Regions from separate parts of the Homo sapiens genome. Here all the other regions are linked to region 1. Evidence: fine-mapped expression QTL. A gene starts in region 1. Each other region holds a variant in brackets. All regions are shown on one strand. Distances are from middle to middle.

What was found.
Region 2: its variant is fine-mapped to the expression of MVB12B in whole blood (INTERVAL, PIP 0.97).
Region 3: its variant is fine-mapped to the expression of MVB12B in T cells (TOPMed, PIP above 0.99).
Region 4: its variant is fine-mapped to the expression of MVB12B in whole blood (TOPMed, PIP 0.94).

The regions. Positions count from the first base shown.
Region 1 is chr9:126,322,123-126,329,878 of GRCh38, forward strand. MVB12B (multivesicular body subunit 12B) reads left to right here and starts at 4,707. Exons shown (of 10, transcript NM_033446.3): 1 at 4,707-4,888. The coding sequence starts at 4,808. RefSeq lists a silencer at 4,692-4,831 and an enhancer at 5,273-5,924.
Region 2 is chr9:126,429,433-126,434,432 of GRCh38, forward strand. All of the region lies in intron 7 of MVB12B (multivesicular body subunit 12B), which reads left to right. Among named protein-coding and RNA genes, the nearest start is that of NRON, 21 kb to the left of the region's middle. The variant A/G (reference allele first, on the strand shown) is at 3,062.
Region 3 is chr9:126,450,146-126,455,145 of GRCh38, forward strand. The region is part of intron 7 of MVB12B (multivesicular body subunit 12B); the gene reads left to right. Among named protein-coding and RNA genes, the nearest start is that of NRON, 42 kb to the left of the region's middle. RefSeq lists an enhancer at 1,693-2,194. The variant G/A (reference allele first, on the strand shown) is at 2,289.
Region 4 is chr9:126,348,014-126,353,013 of GRCh38, forward strand. The region is part of intron 2 of MVB12B (multivesicular body subunit 12B); the gene reads left to right. Among named protein-coding and RNA genes, the nearest start is that of MVB12B, 24 kb to the left of the region's middle. The variant A/G (reference allele first, on the strand shown) is at 3,076.

The sequences.
Region 1 (7,756 bases):
TTCATAGAGATGGAGTTTCATCATGCTGCCCAGGCTGGTCTCAAACTCCTAGGCTCAAGCGATCCTCCTATCTTGGCCTCCCAAAATGCAAGGATTACAGGTGTGAGCCACTGCACCCAGCACTTATTATTATTTTTTTATTTTAAAAAAGTATTTATTTATTTTTTTAGAGACAGGGTCTCTCTGCCATCCAGGCTGGAATGCAGTGGTACAATCATAGCTCACTATAGCCTCAAATTCCTGGGCTCAAGTGATCCTCCTGCCTCAGCTTCCCAAGTAACTAGGACTACAGGTTCACACCACCATGTCTGGCTAATTTATTATTTTTTGTGGAGATGGAGTCTCACTATGTTTATTGATCTTGAACTCCTGGCCTCAAGCGATCTTCCTGCTTCAGCATTCTCCAAATGCTGGGATTATAGGCATGAGCCGCCATACCTGGCCTATTATTATTTGTTAATGATTGCTCTGGTTGCTACTTTCCATTGTTTGGGTAGGGCAAAGCCAGGAGACCAGTAAGGAAATTACTAGAGTGGTCTAGGCCAGAAAATATGGTTTGGAGTAGGGTGTATGAAATATACAAATTTGTATGCCTTATTTGTATACCTATATACAAATAGCTCAATAGATTAAAATGGATATTCCTATTATATACAATAGATGTATAATATACAATGGATATACCTATTTTTATAGGAATAGTTATTTAAAAATATACGCATTCTCAGCAAACTAACACAGGAACAGAAAACCAAGCACCACATGTTCTCACTCATAAGTGGGAGTTGAACAATGAGAACACATGGACACAGGGAGGGGAACATCACACACTGGGGCCTGTTGGGGTGTGGGAGGTAAGGGGAGGGAGAGCATTAGGATAAATGACTAACGCAAGCGGAGCTTAAAGCCTAGAGGACGGGTTGATGTGTGCCATGAACCACCATGGCACATGTATACCTGTGTAGCAAGCCTTCATGTTATGCACATGTATCCCAGAACTTAAAGTAAAAAAAAAACTATATCTACATCTATATCTATATCTATACACACAAATAGATCAATGGATAAAAACAAAGCATTTATAAACGGAACTTAATATATGACAAAAGTGTATATTCTTACACTAGTGGCCCATAGTTTCTTCTGAAGTTTTACATTATATTGTAATATTTGTTAGAGCAATATTTTCTCATTATTCTTCCATTTCAAAAATTTCATGGGTATTTCCTCATACTTATTTATCAAGATAAGTTTCTTGTTAGTTTTTTTTTGTTGTTGTTTGTTTGTTTGTTTCTGAGATAAGATCTTGCTCTGTTGCCTAGGCTGGAGTGCAGTGGCGTGATTATAGCCTACTGTAGCCTCAAATTCCTGGGTTCCAGCAATCCTCCCACCACAGCCTCCCAAGTAGCTGGGACCACAGGCACACACCACCATACCTGGCTCATTTAAAAAATCTTTTTAGAGACAGGGTCTCACTATGTTGCCCAGTCTAGTCGCAAACTCCTGGCCCCAAACAATCCTCCCACCTTGGCCTCCCAAAGTACTGGGATTACCAGCATGAGCCAACACACTCACGCCAATCAAGGTAAATTTTAAAATAATTTCATCATGTTCCATCTCACCTCACCCCTCAGATCATAGTGGTTTCTTGATCTGAATTTTACTAAATTTATAAAGTGAGTTGGGGAGACACAGCATCTTTGCACTGTTGAGACTTCCTGCCCAGGGATTTGTTATATTTTTCCGACTATTAAGATCTTCTTTTATGTCCCTCAGTCAGGTTTGTAGTTTTCTTTCCATGGACCTTCACATTTCTTGTTAAGCTTATGCCTAGTATATGCCTTATAGTATTCATTGCTAATGTGAATATGCTTTTTTTCCATCATACTTCCTAAATGGAAATAACTGGTATTTAGTGTTGTATTTGGAGGTCTCTGTAAGTAATACCTCCCTCCCTATTCTAAGTTTGGAACAAACTGGGGCATAGACACAGGAAAGAGACATAAGACAAAAATACTACCTTAATTTTTAATGAAGCTGACTGGAAAAAGTAGCTTTTGCTCTGTAGCTAAGTGGGCTTGCTATATTTCTCCCTGAATTGAGTAGATTTATTTGTGTAGTGGCGGGTGGTGCAGGAGAATAGTATCACTCTGTCCCTGAAACAGGTTCACTTAACCCACAGTGAGAGCGCATGGAAATATTTGCTCTCTGCAGTCAGCCAAATCCAAAAAGAGAACTCAGAAGCATCTATTCTTGTCCACTTTTTCCAAACTCACTCATCTTCCCTTAGAGTGGAGAGAGGCCAGAAGTCTTATTCTAATGGAAGTCCCTCTATATGGAAAAGAAGGCTTCTCCCTTCAATACCATAAGACAGGGTAAGGAAGAAAAAAAAGAATAATAATAATAATAATAATAATAATAATAAGAAGAAGAAGAAGAAGAAGAAGAAGGAAGGAGAAGGCTTCTCCCTTAACATTTAGGAAAACCATTGATTTTGGTGTTTATCTTATAACTGACCACCTTACCAAAGTCTCTATGATTTTTAGTTGATTTTTTTTATTTTTACTTTTTGGGAAACACTTAAATCATAAGCAAATAATGACAATTTTATCTCTTCCCTTCTAATATTTATATTTCTTATTTATTTTTCTTATCTTATTGCATTGGCTTTATTCTATAGCCATTATAGCAGGCATCCTTTTGACTGACTTACATGAGAATACCTTTAGTGTTTCACCATTAAATATGTTTGTTGATGGCTTCTGATAAACTTTGTCATGTTAAAAGTTTAAACTTTCTTCCTATAATAGTTTACTAAGAGTTTTTAGAAATTTATGGGTCATTAGTTTTGAAGTTTATAAAATACTTTTAAAGCATCTATCCCATTGATAATATCCTGTAATTTGTTTTCCTTTAACAATGCAATGCATTTACAAATTCCCTAATGTTGGATTTTTCTTGCGCCTCTGGAATAAATCTTGCTTGATCATGGTGGGTTTTCAGTTGCTTTAATAGTAAACTGGATTCAAATGGCTAAAATTGTATTTAATAGTTTTACGACTATTATATACTTAAATATATAGTGCAGATTCACATATTGAGGATTTATCAGTGAGCTTTAGAAGGTGGTCCTGGCTCAGATGAGTTTGGGAAATGCCAGGTTAAACAAACCAAACAGGTTTCTTTACTCCTGGACTTCACAGAGGCCTTCCTTAATATACGAATACTTATCGTGATTCTCCAAAAGGTACACTATAAACGGCATGCAGCACTTTCTCAAGTTGCCCACAGAAGCCCATTTTCAAAAAATAAATATTAAATTCTCTGGGGACTCGTGTTCTAGGTTAGTCATCTGCAGTTCTTTTTGGTATTGTCTGTTGGATTTTGGTATCAGGGTTATGCTAAACTTGGGAAATGAAATAAAAATTTTTGTTTCTTTTGTTTATTTTTTCCTGTGTAACAGTTTAAGTAACATAGGGATGATCTGTGCCCTGATGGGAGGATAAGGCTTGCTGTAAAGCCATCTGAACCCATGGCATTTCTGAGTAGTGAAGACACTGGGAATGCACACGTGCATGGCTTCCCTACAGGATGTTTCCCCCGACAGCCCATTCTGCTTGGCACCCTTCTCTTTAGGATCAAACAGCTATTATGGAAAAGCCTAGAATGTGTGAAAATGAGACTCAATGCATTAGCAAATCAATGCTGATCACTCCTGCATGGTCCTCAAGTCCTAACGAATGCTCCAGCCTCCTGGCAGGAAACCTTTCAAATCTTGCACACGCTGGCCTCTGCCTGGGGTGCCTGGCTGGGCGGTGTGGGGGGCATGGTTGGTTAAGGCGCAGAGTCCGCCTTTCCTACCAGCCACTCTAGCTGAGGGTCAAGCTCTGGACCCTCCCCCAACCATCCAGCTCCATTTTATCCTTGGCTTATGCCTTCCCCAAGTACTGCAGGGTAGGACTCCTGCTAAAAACTTCTTCTAGATGCTTGCCTGAGGCTGGCCCCATAAACCTGATTCTAGGCTTCTGGGGATAAATCATCTAACTAATATAAGAGAATTGCTAGGCAATTGGGGTTAGTTTGAGACGACTGGCTGAGCTCACCTTAGGTGAGCTGGGGGGTGGGGGAAGATGAGCTGAAGGATTCTAGGGTTCAGTGAAGCCTAGAATGGCTGGGTGGGCGGAGAGTCCTTAGAAGGGTCCAACTTCTAGCCTGAGGGCCTGGGGGCTTCCAGGGATCTGCAGCCGAGCGGAAGACCGGTCTTGCGTACAGCGAGGCCTACGAGAGCTAAGTGGGCTGAGGGTCCCTGGAAAAGACCAGCCTGGGGGCGGGGACCATCGATGCCCCAGGCTCTAGAGGCCGTGGGCTCCCGGGGGCCTGAGGCTGGACTGGGGTCGCCGGCGGGCTCGGGGAGGCCCGGGTGGGCGCACCGGGGCCCTGCCTGCGGCTGACGGGCTGGGTCGAGGGGGAGGCTGGGGAGGCGGGGTGCCGGCCGGGGCGGCGGCGCGGGCTCGGGACGCCAGGGCTCCCTCTCCCTCCTCCCGCCCGAGCCAGCCTCGGGCGCCGGGCGCCTCCCCCGATCCTGAACCAGCGCCAGCGCCGGGAGGCCCGGAGCCCGGCCCGCCGCCGCGGCCCGCGGAGGGAGCCGCCGCCGCCACTGCCGTTGTCGCCGCCGCCGCCAGGCCGCGCCCCGCCCCTCCGCCGCCGCCGCCGCCGCCGCCGCTCTCGGTGAGGCTCGCGCTCGAGCTGCGGCGCCGGCTCCTGCCGCCTGGGCCCCGGGCCCGGCCCCTCCCGCGCCGCCCGGGCGATGAGAAGCTGCTTCTGCGTGAGACGGAGCCGGGACCCGCCGCCGCCGCAGCCACCGCCGCCGCCGCCCCAGCGGGGAACAGTTAAGTGAGGCCCGGGCGCCGCGGAGGCTCGGCGGAGCCGGCCCTGCAGCCGGGAGGGCGGGCGGGCGGGCGCGGGCCCCCGGCCGAGGGGCGGGCGGACGGGAGGAGCCGGGCCGCGCCGAGGCCTGCGGGCTCCGTGCCCGGCCCGCGGCGGGGACAGGCCCGGGCGGCCTTTGCAGAGCCCCGAGCGCGCCGCGGCTGCCGGTGCCCGGGCTCGGCCTGGCGGCGAGAGGCGGGAGAAGCTGGGGGACCCGAGTGCCAGCAGCGCCCCCAAGGCCCGGGCAGGTGAGGGGCGCCGAGAGCCACCTCTGCCCGCGTGAGAGGGAGGCGGCCCACCTGGGCACAGACTGGGAACAGTCAATCGTTTGACCGGCCTGGCCTGGGGTCCTGCTCTCTCTGGTCACGTGGGTGCAGACCAACGTGCACCTGCCCCAGGAGCATCACTGCCTCTGTGACCTGGGCACAGCAGAGAGGACACCTAAACCCTCAGGCACCTGTCTGGAAGGTGACATGCCCAGCCTGGGTACCCGAGACCCAGAGCACCCATCCAGGAACATGGTGGGCACGTCGAGCACCCTACAGTGACTCCAACACCAGCGAGACGGGAGGAGCAGGGGCTGGGACAAGAGCTGAGGCATGGCACCAGGGGACATCACATCCTCAGAGGCAGGCACCAGGGAACGGGGTAGACCCAAGAGCATCTTTTGTCCTCTTTGTTACCAACACACAACTGTTCTAAATCAGCAGCCCTTCTCACCATGAAAGATGAGACTCTTCTGTTCCCTGCCCCTCAACACCTCTTGCACAAGGCACTGAGGAAGACCACAGGAGGGCAAAAGGCAAATGGTGGTTGCCCCTTCCCTGCTTCCTGCCCCCACCCAAGAACCAGAGCCCACTCCGATTGCTGCCACAAAAGCAGACAGCAGACCAGCTCCTCTTAGGGGCCTTTGTCTCTCGTGGTTCCTTCTCAGTATAATCTCATTGTACATTTCTCGACAGCTGGCTGGATCTCATCTCGTTTTAACAGGGCTGGGAAATCTTATCAGCGGCACCAGGAAAGCTTAGAGAGTTAAAAAATAAGCTCTGTGAAGCCTTGACTAACTGAAAAACTCAATGTGCTAGGATGTTTAGTTACAGTAGATGGTGACACCTTTCTTGCTTGTTAGAAATCATGTGGGGTCCTTGGAGATACTGTACCATGCTCAGAATCTTTAAATAGGGCCTCAGAGAGATGAGGCTTCTGCTTGGGACCCGGGCTCCAAGCCCCATGGGAAGCAGTTGACGTGGCGATTACTGGTTCATTTAAACCTAAACTTACCTTCTGTAATCCATATTTTTCATTCCTTCCTTCTAGGCTTTAGGTCACACTCCTAATTTAGGTTCAAGGCATTTTTCTTGCCCTGTCTCCATCCTGCTAGGGACCTTTTACCACTTCCAACTGGAATGTTGTGCCATGGTTATGTGCAGGGAGTTTAGAATTAGCCCTCAGCTTAAGTCTTGGCTTTCCTACTTACTTTGTGCCCTTGGACAAATTATTGAACTTTTCTGAGTTTCAGTTTCCTCATCTGTAGAGTGAAACTAATGATAGTATTCATCTCATGGGATTATGGCGTGATGTAAATGAAATTTTGCAAGAAAAGTCTAGCTCAGTGCCTGCTACATGGCAAGAAGTCAGTAAACGGTAGGGGTCATTATGAGAGGTTTGTTAACGGATGAATGAGAGGAGTAGCTTATTTATTTATTTTTAGAGTTTCTTTCTGTCTGCTTTTTTTTTGGTTTTTGTTTGTTTTTGAGACAGGGTCTCACTGTCACTCAGGCTGGAGTGCAGTGGTACCATCATGGCTCACTGCAGCCTTGAACTCCTGGACTCAAGCGATTCTCCCACCTCAGCCTCCCAAGTATAGGTGCCTGCCACCACGCTCGGCTGTTTTTTTAAATTATTATTATTTTTAGTAGAGTTGGGGTCTTGCTATGTTGCCCAAGCTGGTCTTGAACACCAGAGCTTAAGTAATCCTCCCACCTTGGCCTCCCAAATTCCTGGGATTACAGGCATGAGCCACCACGCCTGGCCTATTATTTAGTCTTCAACGGGACAACCAGGAAGTGATGGTATAGTAGAAAGAACACTGGACTTGGATTTAGGAGCTTGAGTTTGACTCTCAGGCTACCTCCTGGACCCCAGGTGACCCTAGGGGAGTCACAGAACCTTTCTGAATCCCCATTTCTGTAATGTAAAAGTGTCTTAAGAACAAAGCCTACCCCATAAAGCTAATCAGTCAAGAAGAGCTGAAGGAGCTAATGTATGTGACTGCACTTGGCACTGCAGGAGGTGGCGGTCCTCATGAAATTTAAGTGTGCGATTCAGCATCCAGCAGCAGATCATGGTGTTTTTTTCAGGTCCGATGTTTATACAGTTTGTTGCGGGGAGAGCATTAAGAAAAAGAATACAAGAATATCCTGTGTTTGTACATGTTACAGAACCACGCCACCATGTGAGCACACTGCTGGATGCCCTCTCAGGGCCTTGGAAGGGGTAAGGGAGAAGTGTAGTCTCTATCCATTTCATGGAGGATCTTCTCCTGGGGGGATCAGAATCCAAATGGCATAGGCCCCTCTGTCTGAGTTTGCTGGAAGTGCTCCATACTCAAAGGGAGACATCCTTGCCACACTGCAAAATAATGATGGTGCTGGAGTCAAGCATGGGAAAAGTCGAAGGTGCTATTATGATGATGAAGATAACAAATGACTACATGGCTGGATGTGGTTAGGCTGAGCACACTGTGTTGCAGAGCCTCCTTTGCAGGTTGGGTTGTGGAGGGGAGGCCTGGGTTTCTTGAATAGACTCCTTCTCCCCAGGCTGCTCTGGC
Region 2 (5,000 bases), 110 kb after region 1:
GATGAATTGCCTGCTTTCTTGATTAAACCTTCCGTCACTTAAGAAACAAAAAGCCTGTGTTTAGATGGCAGAGTGGGACATGTCAAAAAAATCTGTCTCCTTTACCTTTGTGCAGATGTTGGGCACAGACTGTAACATGTATTATTAAAATGAATGTGGCATTTACTGTGCATTATTCCTTTCCTGGGAGAAAGGACTGTAAATTATATGCTAATAATAAGCTTTAACCCTTTCGAAATGCAAAAGATTTAAGAGTGCAAATATTCATGTAGGCCTGGCTAATTGGATGTGCTTTTCTACATCCACCACGGTGGCTGTGTCACTGAAGTTAATGAACAGCGTGTGCAGGCAGACACACAGGGCACTTGGGGAACTCCTGCCTCCTGGAGGTTTTCTGCAGTGCGAGTGCCTCCTCCTGGACTTCACAGAGAGATAGACCCTGAGAACCCTGAGCTGGGCTCTGGGTCATCTTACTCCAGATGAAGTCCATGGTCAGGATCAGTTCCCCAGCAGGTCCTCTGCAGCTGAGTGTTAAGCGTGGGACCTCTCTTCGCACACCTGCATTCTCACTTAGAATGCAGGGCCCACAGAAGGCCGTGGGCCCGGGCCTTCTGGGCTGCAGTCTGGCAGGTATCAGGCTTTGGTGCCCAGCCCTTACTTGACTCTCTTCCTTGACCAGGCTTTTCTAGCCTCAGCCCAGTTGCCCAGGTAGCTGACTCATCTCTCCAAAGACCTCCTTGGTCCCCTTGCTCCTCAGATCACACCTTTGTGCCCCTCCACAGCCTGACTGCATTCATTCAGACCTCAGACCTCACCTGCCTGGTGTTGGGGCTGTCAACAACCAGCCCCACCCGTGTCCCACCAGCCTGGGTCGCTCCCTGCGTCCTCCTTGCCTTTGTCTTGCGCTATGCTTGCCCCGCCACTCCAGCAGCTCAGATTTCACCACCTTCTCTTCTCTCTGTCCCTGGCTGTGGCTCTGAAGGCCACTCCCAAGCTGCCTCTCCATCAGGCTTTTCTGATTCCTCTCCCGCTGCTGATGCTCTCTCCTGGTTTACCCCACACTACTCTGTTGGAGAGTTTTCACCTGTGAGCACCTTGAGTGAGAGGGCAGAGACCATATTTAGAGAGAATGGAGGCTCCCCTCTTTTTTTTTTTTTAATTGAGGAGGATGTAGGTAAACAAAGGCAAAGACAAGAGCAAGATTGTTCACTCCATTCACTCAACAGTCACCGAGAGCTGCCCTGTCCTGTGCTCCTGAGGGCAAGCCTGCTGCCCTGATAGGGCATTTGGGGTTGGAAGCATAGGGTCAGAATCTTGGCTCTGACACATACTGGCCATCATACAGTGCTGCTGTGAGCAGTTGCCAAGGTTGTGCACTGCACAAAATATGTGACTAGCATCCTCTAGAACTGTACAAGGACCCTGCACAATGCTACTTTGGGCAATGCTAGTATCCATACCTTTAAAACAATGCAGTAATGCCCGTTTCCTTCCTGGATTGTTGTGAAGATCTAGGGTAGGTAAGAACATTTCATAAACCAGGAAGCAGTGTAGGAATGTCACTTCTCTCCTTATTCAGCTCCCCTACAGGGATGTGATCCAAGAAAGAGCCCAAAGACTTGTTGAGAATTATCACATGGGACACGCTGGCTTGGGCCCAGCACGGTCTTCATCTTCTTAGCCGTGTGCTTCCTTATATAATTTTGATATATAAGATTACTTCTCAGAGTGCTCAGAGGAAATTTCTTCCTCAGTCCAGAGAAACTTGCAATAAAAGGCTCTCTGGCATGGCTCAGCTCAGTACCCCCTGGAAGCCGAGACATTCTGTCACGCATCACCACTTAGAAGTGGGCTATTTTCCGTGGCAAGCAGCCCACGATCCCTTTCTCAAGAAGGTGACAGAATGATGGCTTGGGGGCAGGAAGGAGAGAAGTGCTTGGCAGCGTGAGGCTGCAACTTCTATAAAATCTTTCAATGTACCTTTGGTTTTTTGGAGGAAAAGTGCCTGGGGGGCTGATTTCTGCTCTAGGCTTTCATTTCTGCTTTTCCTGTGCCCCATGGGTAGGAAGAAGTTAAGACTTTTTCCAGTTAAGTCATCATGAAAAATAAAAATATTACTAGGTGACAGATACCTCAGTGCTCTTAAACAGGCGGCCACCTTCCCACTGTGCTTTCCTTCTCTTTTTGGTTTTTAAGCATGGCAGAGCTTAGGCGGCACTGGTTTAATGGGCCACATCCCCTTCTTAACTTGGAAAAGGGTTAAATCTGTGGTCCAGGCAGCCGAGGGCAGCTGGATGAAGCAGGGTGGGAGCCCAAACAGCTGGGTGCAGGCCCTGTCTCTCCCACCGACTAGCCGAGTGAGGCCAGCAGAGATCCTAGCCTTTCTGGATCTAAATTCCACATCTCTCCATATCAGCAATTGCAGTAACAATATCGATCATTTGAACATAGCAATAGGTCGGCTCATTCTTATGGGACGCTTCCTGTGCACCAGGCATTGTCTGGTGTTTAAGGTGGAGGTGGTAATGCCCACCTCCCAGGACTTAAAGCTATGTGGGAAGGAGGCTTGTATATTCTGCAGCTTGAGATGCCCCAGGCCTCGCAGTGGCCAGCAAATGTGCATTTACTGCCCCTGGACTTCACAGACATTCTGTCCAAACACTGCCTTGACTGTAACGTTCCTAAACACATGAACACAGAAAAACCAACTTTCTGATACCTTTCTCCCTGTATGTTTATCTTCTTTGTCTAGTTTTTCAGCAGAAATATGCCCATTTCCCCCTGATAATTCCCTTCCTTAGAGACAGCATAATTGTAGACCTGGCCAGAGAAATGCTGAAAACAAAGGGAACCCCCTTGAGCCCAGCCCTTCACCTGCTCTTAGCACTTCTTCAGAGGTTTACTCTGGAGTGAATGAAGTAGTGTGACCAGACACTCCTGCCTAGAGGCAGCTTATACCAAATTAGCCTTTTGTTTCTTTCTCTACCTCTGTCTCTCTCAAAATAATAAACTCTCAGCTGAGAGGGGAAAATGATGAAGGCAACTTCTTTCATTGAAACAC[A/G]TTTAGTTGTTTTTGCATTATTAAAATGGATTAAATTAATTAAATGAATTTACTGAATAATACCCAGCCTTCCTCTTACTTACCCTGTGTAAGGTATGGCATATGCACTTGCCATGCATTATGTTATTTAATCCCAACAAATCCTTAACCAAGAAAATCTTTTACAGATGGGGAAACTGAGGTCTTGAGAGCTTGTGATCAGCTCACAGTTACACCTGTGGTACGTGGCAGGGCTGAGATTCAGACCCAGGTCTCTTTGACTGCAGACATTGAGCTCGAAACCACGGTACTGAGGATGCTTCTTTAGCACAGGTTGCGTGTGACCGTTTCCCTCCCCTCATCAACTTGAAGGTTGGAAATGGCACACAGACCTGGAGTGAATCGTGCTAGGACTAACTTGGTGTACTGGGCCTCAGCACTGTTTAAACTCTCACGTGGGCCCCTGGATGATCATCTCTGGGACCTCATCAGAGTGAGGCCTTTGACACTTGGCTGATGGCAATGCTGGATCCAAAGGAAAAAAGGAATAGGGGGTGTGGCTCCCATCACTCTTGCTGGGCAAAACAGTGAAGGTGGGGAGCCCAAGGCCTCCTTACTTAAAGTTAAATGACCTTGGGCAAGGAACTGAACCCTTCTGTGCCTTTGTCTCCTTACCTGTAAAATGGGGGTGACGGTGACTTATGGTGAAGCTTAGAACCATGCCTGGGACACAGAAAGTGCTATTGATGTATTGCTGTGATTGTTGGTATCCACAGCCCTGCCCTCCCAGCCCCTTCTCAGATCCTTTCCCAGCCAGGAAAGGGGATACACCAGGTATCCCCTCTGATACACCAGGTATCCCCTTTGATACACCAGGTATCAAAGAACCTCTGCCTTCATAGTGGGGGCTGCACTAGCCTTGCTGCTATAAACCTGTGTCTGGGGGAGCCCTTGGCACTGGGATGTCTCTTCGTGGTGGCCTTCTCTTAGCCTATAGTGATGGTGGGCAGCCCAAGCCCATCGTTTCACTTATTGGGTCTGACCCCCAAGTGTTCTTCTCCCCTACTCTAGCTCTCCTGTTCCGTGAGTCCCTGTACCCTGCCCATGGGCAGGGCTCTAGTTTGAACTGATAGTCACCTGTGTGCTGCCCTGCCTTTCCTGCTTGGAAGCTTCATTCTCTAGATTGGGCCTCCTAAGAGCCAACTTCTCCTAAACCCAAGCCCAAGATTACTGAGCCATTGCAGCCCGTGAGCATTCCTTGTGAGTATTCCCTGTGAGTGCTCCAGAATAACCCTCACCTGTGACCCAGTCATTCCCAGTCCCAGCTTCCACTCCTGCCTGCTTCCAGCCCCCTGAGTCCTCCAGCTGCCAGCATTGCCGAGCTCAAGCATCTCTGAGTTAAGACAGTAGTGGCAGGGCATTGGATTCCGAGTTGGGGTAAACTCTCGATGGCCTGCTAAGGATGGATACATGCGGTGCCAGAACTTGGGGAGAAGTTGAACAGTCGCACAAGCTTTGGTGATGAGATTTATCTTTCAGCTCTTACACAGTATGAGGGTCCCCCTTTTTTGTCAGAATGAATGCATTTAACTGCTGACATTAGGACAAAAGAAATTCCGATCTTTTTTAGAACAACGAAGCCACCTGTCTTGTTTGGACAGAGTACCTGAATCCAACTACTGTCACACAGTTGGTGTTTGTGCCCTGAATACTGAATGGCTTTTTCCCTCTTTTTATTAATGGCCAGTGATAGTCCTAAATGCATTTATGTTTAAAAAAAAAAATCTTCAATCCTGCAGCCTGGAGTTTGGATGGAATATATTTATCACCTATCCCAGAGAATAAGGTTCTTGATTCCCCAGATTTGTCTTACAATTGTCTGTAAGACAATGAATGATACAGAACTCTCCTCCAAGGTTGAGATCCTTTGTTAGAGAGCAGTTTCTTACGCCTGACTTGT
Region 3 (5,000 bases), 130 kb after region 1:
CTGGGAGGGCCCATCAGGTGATGAGTCCTGCTGCTCCCTGCACTGTGCAGAGCAGAGCCCCTGGCCCTCCCTGGGAAGGAAGGTCTGGCTCCCAGGTGGGCGGTGGGCAAGCTCCACTTCCTCTCATTAGTCAGCCTAATGGATGGCCGGCTGAGCTTCCAGATCTGTCCGGGGACTAGTGGACTCTTACCGCCTGCTCCCAGAGCAGCCTGGGAAGCTAGCCCCCATTGGGGTGACACAGATGGCAAGCCCAAATGACAAAGTAAACTCCAATATGTCTTGGAGACATTGTCAGCCTGCAGCTTATTTGTCATGTCACAGCAGCCTTGTGGACCAGGGATGTACTCCCTCCCCGGCCCTGCTCCATCCCCATGTGAGGATTATTTACAGGAAACTGCATTTGATAGGGCTGGTGGGGAGGGCATAGAGATGGAGGGGTGCCAGAACAGATGTTGGTCATTTTCTCACGTTTGGGAAATTAATAACACTCACTTACCTAGCATTTATAGAGTGCTTCACCCAAACTCTCTTCAAGTCTCATAGCAACCCAAAGAGGTGTCGATATAATTAATCCCAGTTAATAGATGCAGAAACCAAGGCATAGAGAGCTCAGTCAACTTGCCCAATCACACAGCTAATGAGAGCTGGGATTCCGGCTCAGGCTGGTGCAGCGGAGGCTGAAAGGGCACTTGCTGCCTGCTCAGGGCTGGGTTTTGGGAGGCAGATCAAGCAGGAGGAATGACACCCTGTATCCCAGGGATGTCCTTCAGCCCTGCAGGTGCAGACCAGCTGTGCCACCCAGCCCAAAAGGGGACACATTAAGGGAGGGAAGCGGCACTGTTTGGCCTTTCTCCCATGGTGACTGGGCTCTGCGGTGAGTGGCTGTGTTTGGGGCTGTGCTGGACAGCAAGGTCACGTACTCCACCCTAGGTGGCATCTCTGCATCACCAGAAGAGCAGGGGTCAGAGGAGGAGGAAGAGGCTTGGCAGGCTGAGTATTCCCAGCCTTGCCTTTCACACCACCACTGCCATAGGGAGTCAGGCCCTTCACCATCTGGGCCTCAGCGTCTTTGACTGTAGAAACAAAAATGGAGGCATGAAAAGCCTCATTCAAGAATTGCAGTGAAGATGAAATGAAATAAAGCTTGCAAAATGGCCCTGCCCACGGTAGGTGCTCACCACTGTAGAGAATGGCTGGGAAGCAGTGCAGAGGGGACTCTCTCAAAGGCCTAGGCCTTTTGCTGCACCTCCAGGTGGAGGAGGGTGTCAGGGACAGGTCAGGGGTACTTAGTAGAGGGTCTCGAGCAAATGATCCCAAGAGCTGCAGCCCATCCAGGCTCTGAGCAGGAACCCTGGAGACCAGAGACAGCAAGGCTCTGTGAGAACTGGATTCAAGCCCAGGGGAATGGTCAAGGCTGCATCTCCCTATCCCCAGCTCCCAAAGCAGTAGGAGTTCAAACCCACCGGGACAGGGGGGCCAAAAAGCTGGACAGAGGGATGAGGCACTGCAGGAACTCCGTGGTGGGACACGACCCTCCCACTACCTTCCAGAAGCAGGAAGAGAGGAGGCACAAGGGTCCTGGGTGGGTGCCCGGGACTCATGTCATCTGGAGGGGGTTTATTTATCTTTCTGATTTAGCTTTAAAGATGCCCCTGAACCCACAGCCTCTGGTCACAGGTAAGCAATGAAAAGCCAGGTGGAATATGAAGAGCAGATTAGGTTAGCCGTGTGACTGATCCCAAGCTGTTTGCCGAGTCTCTGTGTAAATTTCATGCAGGTTGTCTGATTGAGGACACCTGGAATGCCGCGGGCTTGGTGGTTATGAAAGTCCCACTGTTTCATTCCTTAGCCCCGCTCACCAGTTATGTGCAAGTTGAACCGTACCATCAACCCCATTCCCAGCAGCTCCTGTGCATGTCGGAGGCAGGGGATCCTTGTGTCAGGCACCAGCAGATGCACCTACTTTTTCCCTAGGAGATGAAAAAAGGAAGAATGTGAGTCCGTGCCTTCAGCTCATGCGTGTGCTCACGTGCAGGCACGCGCAACCAGGGCTCCCAGGGAGAATGTGCATTTTAAACAATAGACCCAGCCTAATTCCTGGTGTTCACGTGGAGGCCATTCAGCCAGCCCTGAGCCCCAACTACTTGCTGGTCATTCTACTTGAATCTGGGACACAAAAGGTAAAGAAGACATGGCCCTGCCTTGGAGCCTGGTAGGCTTTCCCTCCTCAGCTCGGACCAGCACTGGGGACTCAGCTCCAGACGTGTGCAGACCCTGCGGGCCCACGG[G/A]GTTGCCTGGGAGCTGGGGAAATGTGTTCCCTGTTAGAGCGCTGTCCATTTGGTGATTTGGGGGCAGCCGGTGCAACACATTCAGCAGGGCCTCAGGTCGTTTGGCCAGACTGGAAATTGGTTCTATCCCAAATGTTGCTGGAAATAACAAGGCAGCTGTTCAGCCTCTCTGTTCTCAGTTAGTAAGTGAGAAAAGTGTGTGAACCCGGCAGAGGAAAGAAAGAGTTGTCAGAGCCCATTTCCCCCATGCCTTTGATCTTGCTGACCTGGATGTTTGGGTGTTGGGGGTGGGGGTGATTTGGGAGTTTGGGTGAGTTTTTTGGCTGAAGTAATTGGGATGTCTTAGGAAGCAGGGAAGGAAGGGAAGTTCAAGGGTAATTGCTAACTGATGCCAGAAAGAAAAAATAAATGAAATGCTTAGGCACTTCATGGCCCTTTATTTTCCAGCCATTTCTGCAAATTGCAGTCTAGTTCTTTCTCAGAAATAAGTGACCTGCTAATACAGGGTGGGGAATAGTGGCTGTAGGACAATGAGGTTTAATTTTTAAAAGCTCTGGACTCAAGTCCCAGCTCTGCCCCCGAGACAAGCCCCTCACCTTCTTTGAGCTTCAAGTCAGTCTTCTATCAAGAGGGGCTGAAAATGCCTGCCTCCCGGGATTGTGGTAAAGACTAATTAAGAGAAGACTTGCTGAAAGTGCTTTGTCAGCTGTGAAATATGTGAGAAAGATAAAATCCCTATTTCTTCAAGTTCAGCGGGTTTTTAGTGAGCATCTATTTTTGCCAGAAAACCCCACAGACGTGCCACCTCCCCGTGAGCATCCCCACCCACCCCAGTGCATTGTCAAGGACACATGAACTTGTCAACTGGGTGAGCAAGCAGGGGAGGGGTGAAAGGTCCAGCTGCAAGCAGGGAAGCAGCTGAGCACCCGGAGCAGACCAGGGCCTGGCTGGGCAGAAGGGACTCCCAGAGCTCAGGAGTGTTGCTGTTTGCCCCTTCTCCCTTCTCAAGTATGGAGTTTTGTTTTCATACCTGAGGTTGGAGGTCCTAGTGACTTCTTTCTGCCTGTGTGGGCTGTAGAGGAATCCGTTGCCAACAGCAGTGGCCTGTGTATCACCGGCTGCTTCCTGGAAGAGGTGTTCATTACACAGGCTCAGCCTCTGCTTGCCCATGAGGCTCTTGCGGTTTCTTTCTTCTCACTATGCCCCTTCTCACATGTGCATAACTCGTACATGGACACAATCTCACATGCGTTACGTGGCACATGCATACACTCACGTGTGGCACACTCTCACGTGTACATACATACCGTGTGCATGGTCTTGCATGTGACACACAGCCTCACATGCATATGTGCACACATGACACGTGTGCATGCTCACATGTGTGCACACATGACATATACACAGGTGGCCTCCCCTCCTCTCTGGATCATCAAGGATACCATCCAGATTACCTTCCAGGGCTGGGACAAGGGCTCACCAGGCCCCAACAGGGCAAAAGACAATGAGAGAGGCAAGATGGAAGTCTGGTGTCCCATCAGGGAAAGTCTAAGTGAGAAACAGACGCGGTAAAGCAGAGAGCACCGGGAGACAGGAGAGGCATGGACCTCAGAGTCAGTGCCACCACCACCTGCTAGCACCTCCCTTTGGTCCCTTCAGCATTTTAAAACCTGCTTTCTGTACTGAGAAATAGGCTTTCTTCTTTTATTTTCAAACTTCAAAGATCAGTTTTGAAATAAAGTTTTTTCTGATGGAATTCCAAAGGTTTTACACATGTGTGAAAGGAGAAGTTTGGCTGTTAAAATGTGTTCACCCTGCCCCTTGCTGCCCTGACCCACCAGGGTCCCACCGTGCCTCCACTTTGTTCTCCTAAATGCTGCACCAGCTCACAACCACCAATAGTGTGTTGTTCCAGCCTCTTTCCTTCATCCCCCTAATTCATTTGTGTTCAGCTAGAGCCTAGTGGGGCAGAATTGATTTTTTTGTTAATGGGAAGAAATGTTTCCTGTGTAGGCATTGTTTACCACTCTGCAGCTAATCCCATTGAGCCTCGGGCTCAGTAAGCGGGACACCCAGGTGGCCTGGGGCTGGGCGAGTAGAAAGGTGGCCCCTGGTCTTAGCCAAAGGAGTGCCCTATTCAAGCATCAGGATACATTTGCAGTGGCCAGGGGTATGGACCTTGCATTTTTTAACCCCTGCATGGCTTTAGCCCCATAAAGACCCAACTAAATAAGTGAGATGGAAGTGAATGTTTTCCTCTTCTTTTTCATTTTACTTTTGTTAAGCACTGCATAATGTGCATGCCACGTAATACAGTGAATAGCCTTCTGGTAGGGGTCGATGACCATAATTGAGTTTTTTTTTTTTTAACCAGCCAGGAAAATGCTTCCTTAATCAATGTTCTTTAAATGCTTTGACACATGGTAACAACACACCACAGAGATGCACGTGCCGCTCTCCACCAGACTCCACTGATAGGAATACTGGGCAGCCCTTTCTTCCCTTCCCTCCTGTGAGCCTGTGGGTGCGCAGGGCAGCCACTCCGGGGATGAGCGAGCATGCACCATGATGGCGATTCCAGGAAGGATCTTGAACCACGTCCTGGCAGGGCTACCTGGGCCAAAACCCTATTTCTAGGCCCCTTAAAGGTGAGCGGGCTTCAGCTCTCTCCCCAGTAAGACCCACAGCTCCCAGTAAGACCCTGCGAGCTGG
Region 4 (5,000 bases), 25 kb after region 1:
CAGCTTGTTCTTGCTGTCCCAGCTTCCTGAGCACAGGGCTTTGCTATCGTGGGGCTACTAACTGCAGAAATAACCACAGACTTTGAGTCCTGCCACACAGATTGGTTTATTTTCAAAACCAGAGCTTGTTTTGATAAAAGGCACCAGGTGTTCCTCCTTTTTGTTTTGTTAGAAAATACATTAAGCTGAGATTTACTGAAATGCGGAAAGTGGTTTTTGTAACTAGCCCTGGGCCTTTGTTCCCTGTGGCCTGGATTAGCAAACCTCTTTTAAGGTCCTTCCCTCCACATTCCCCTTTGTCCTGCCGCACCCTGGCCCCAAGGGAGCAGAGCTGTGGTCTGAGAGAATGCACGTGGCACACTTAGCACAGTGCTGGCATCCACGAGGTGTGCAGGAGGCAAACATCAGCTATCGTTAGGTGATCCTCTTAGAAATAGTGGCTTAAAGCACCTGGTTGCAGAGGAGCTGGTCTTGTTTTCTTCTAGGCTTCCCTTCCCTGCTAACCATGAATTTTTCGTTTTGACCCAAAGTTCCCGCTAATGACTTGTTCCGTAGTTGATTCATTTGGAAAGTGGTAGGGAACAGGCAGTGTTCTGGTACTTCCTTCTGTTTGCTAAAACTTCCTAATTCCCTATTTAAAAAGCCTTCTAATAATGAAACGTCAATTAATTGGATGGTTGAAAAAAGACGAGGCGCTTGCTTTAATTTTTCTTTCTTTTTTTTCAGTTAAACTTTTTATTTTGAGACAATGGTAGACTCACATGCAGTTGTAGGAAGTACTACAGAGAGATCCTGTTTACCCCCCACCAATGGTAAAGTCTTGCAGACTAGTACAATGTTACAACCAGGATACTGACATTAATACAGTACATTAATACAGAACATTTCTGTTTTAAAACGTGCCCAGGTTTTTGTTTTTATTCATATATGATGTGGCCAATAAATGAGGAGAGGATTGCCACTGGAAAGATTATTACTCGCAGTTCCCAAGAGGAGCAGACAGGCCACACCCTGTAGGGCCACCTGGGGAAGCACAGGTGGGGAAACATAGGTGGGGAAGCGTGGGGTGTGTCAGGAAGCACAGAGAGCCAGGGAGAAACGAGCCAGGAAGGGCAGTGTCAAGCAGGGTGAGCACAGTTAGGATTGATTAAGTTTGAATAATTTTGGCAGGTCCTGGGGTACATGGGTGAGTCCCTCATTGTCAGGTACCTGGCCCTGGGGTGATTTAGGGCAGGGGAATCGTGTCCTGGACTGCAAGAGCCCGTGAAAGCAGGCAGATGGAGATAAGAACTCAGTATTGGTTGGTTTGCATATCCAAGGCATGCACACAAGCAAGTCATTCACCTAGGAGGGGCAGTCCCTCCCTGCTTCTGCAAGACCTCAGGATATCAAAGCCTCATAAAATATAGAAAAAACCTGCCAAAATACAATTTCTATCACCATAAGGATCTTTCATGTTGTCGTTTTATAGCTACACTCACTTCCCTTATACTACCACCTTCTCCTTAACCCTTGATAGCCACTAATCTGTTCTCCATTTCTATAATTCTGGCATTTGAAGAATCTTATATAAACGGAATTATAGTATGTCACCTTTTGGAATTGGCTTTTAAAAAAAACTCAGCATAATTCTCCTGAGATTCATGCAGAGAGTCTATTGTGTGGGTTAATAGTTTATTTCTTTTTACTGATAAATAGTATTCCATGGTTTGGATATCCCACAATTTGTTTAACCATTTACCCATTGAAGGACATCTTGGTTGTTTTCATTCTGGAGCCATTATGAATAAAGTTGCTATAAATACTCAGGTGAAGGCTTTCATGTGGCTGTGTTTTTATTCCTCTGGGATAAATATCCAGGAATGCATTTGCTGGGTCACATGGTAGTTGCATGTTTAGTTTTTAAATAAAATGTTAAACTACTTTTTGGTGTAGCTGTAATGAATATATGAGGATCCAGTTTCTCGACATCTTTTCCAGCATTTGTTATCGTCAGTATTTTTTTGTTTTAGCCATTCTGACACGTGCATAGTGATAATTCATTTGGTTTCACACTGTATTTCCCTAGTGGTTAATGAATGATGTTGAACATCTTTTCATGTGCTTATTTGCCATCTGTATGTCTTCCATGAAAATTTCTTCATGCCCTTTACTCATTTTCTCATTGGATTGTTTGTTTTTTTTACTGTTGAGTTTTAAGAGCTCTTTGTGTATTCTAGCTATGAGTCCTTTGTTGGATATGTGGTTTCCAAATATTTCTCCTAGTCTTTACCTGCCTTTTCATCTTAACAGGGCCTTTCACAGAGCAAATGTTTTTAATTTTGATGAAGTCCAATTTATTACTTTTTCTATCTGTGAATCATGTTTTGGTGTCAAGTCTGAGAACTCTCTGCCTAGCTCTAGATCCTGAAGATTATCTCCTGTTTTCTCCTACAACTTTTATAGTTTTACATTAACACTTACGTCTGTGATCCATTTTTTCCTTAATTTCTGGAGGCTGGGAAGTCCAAGTTCAAGAGGCACATCTGGTGAGGGCCTTCTTGCTTGGTGAAGATTCAGCAGAGTCCCAAAACAGTGCAGGTCATCTCATGGCGAGGAGACTCAGAGTGCTAACATGCTAGCTCAGATCTCTTCCTCTTTTTATAAAGCCACCAGTTCTGCTCCCATGATAACCAATCAATCCATTAATCCAATGAATGAGCCCTCATGATCCAATCACCTCTTAAAGGCCCCACCTCTCAATACTGCTACAATGGGGATTAAGTATCCACAGGATTTTTTGAGGGGACGTTCAAACTATAGCAGGTAGAATGATTCCTTCTACTTTATTCTCCTTTCCAAAATGATTTTAGCTATTCCAGTTATTTGTCCATATAATCTTAAAATAATCTTGCCTATATCTACAAAAAACTTGTTGGGGTTTTAATGGCAATTGATGTTAAATCTGCATATCAATTTGAGGAGGATTCACATCCCCACTATGTTGAGTATTCCAATTCATGAACATAGTATGTCTCTTCATTTATTAGTTCTTCTTTCATTTCTTTCGCCAGCGTTTTGTAGTTTTCAGCAAAC[A/G]AGCTCTATAATGTTTTGGTAGATTTGAGCCTAAATATTTATTTTTAGATTTTGAGCAATTATAAATGGAATTGTACTTTTAATTTTGATGTTCACATGTTCATTGCTGTTATATAGAAATTCAGTTAATTTTTATAGGTTTATCTTACATCCTGTGACCTTGCTGCACTCACTATTAGTTCTAGGTTTTTGGTTTTGTTTTTTTCTTATGATTCCTTGTGATTTTCCACCTGGACAACAATCTCATCCTTTTTTCTTTCCCATCTGTATGCCTTTTATTTCTTTTTCTTGCCTTATTGCAAAGGATAGAACATCTAGCACTATGTTACCTGTGAGAGAGTAGACCTTCTTGCCTTATTGCTGATCATAGGTGGAAAACATTCAGTCTTTCACTCTTTTTTTTTTTTTTTTTTTTTTTGAGACTGAGTCTTGCTTTGCTGCCTAAACTGGAGTGCAGTGGTGCGATCTCAGCTCACTGCAACCTGCACTTTCTGGGTTCAAGCAGTTCTCCTGCCTCAGCCCCCAAAGTAGCTGCGATTAACAGGCATGTGCCACCATGCCCAGCTAATTTTTGTACTTTTAGTAGAGATGGGGTTTCACCATGTTGGCCAGGCTGTTCTCAAAGTCCTGACCTTGTGATCCACCTGCCTTGGCCTCCCAAAGTGCTGGGATTACAGGCTTGAGCCACCGTGCCTGGCCCCAGTCTTTCACTCTTAAGTATAATATTAGCTGAAGGTGTTTTGGTAGGTACTGTTTATCAAGTTGAGGGAGTTCCTTTCCATTCCTGTTTTTCTGAGAGTTTTTATCATGAATAGGTATGGAATTTTGTCAGATGCCTTTCCTGTATCAATTAATATGATCATGTGATTTTTTTTTTCCTTTAAAGCTTGTTAACATGGTGGATTAAATAGATTGGTTTTTGAATATTAAACCAGCCTTGCATCCCTGGAATAAATTTCACTTGGTCATGGTATATAATTCTTTCTATTTATTGCTGAATTCTCTTTGATAACAGATTGTTAAGAATTTTTTTTGGCTGTTACAGATGTCTGAAAAAGAAAGAAAAAAATGTTGTGTTTGTATTTATGAGGGATATTGATCTGTAGTTTTCTTTTTGTATACTGTCTGTCTGGCTTGGTAATACTAGATTCATAAAATGAATTGGAAAGTGTTCCATCCTCTTCTGTTTTCTGGAAGAGACAGTGTAGAATTAGTATTAATTATTTTTTAGATGTTTAGATGTGGAAGTCTGGGATCCTTACTCTGGCTTTGTTGGCATGGGTGGGTGTGGGGCCACAGTATTTTATGTGGCATTTGGCTGGGGTAGAGCAATTATTGTCTAAACATCTTCCCTCTTGCTAGGCTGCCCCCTGACTAGAGAAAGCAGGCTTCTGTTGTTTTTGTTTGTTTGTTTCTTTGGTTTTTGGTTTGTGTTTACTGCTGTTTCTGGGTTGCTGATTTCTTTAGCTTCAAGTCTGGGATATATGAGGCAGAAAGAAAACCACAGAACTCACCACCATGTTGTTCCCTGGGTCATGAGATCCCTAGCTGGTCAGACGGATTATTTCACCTTTCAGAGTCTTCTGGTGTTTGTTTGGTATAATTTCCAGTTTTTTTAGTTGTACTTACTGGGAAGATTAGGGAAAAGTATATTTACTCCATATTCCTGGAAGTGGAAGTACTGGCTTGCTTTAATTTTATGTTAATTCAGAGTTAGCCAGAGAATCTGTTTATTTCTAAGCCTGTCATAAATCTTTCCAAAACATTTATGTTTCAGCCTTAATATTATATATATAGGCAGGAAGTATGCTATTGTGTGCTTGTAAAATACTTGCTAGTTACTCCTTAAAGTATGGAAGACTCAAAATGCTGCGGAGCCATCTTTCTCAATTTTCGTAGTCCAGATTTATAGTATTAAAAGGCTG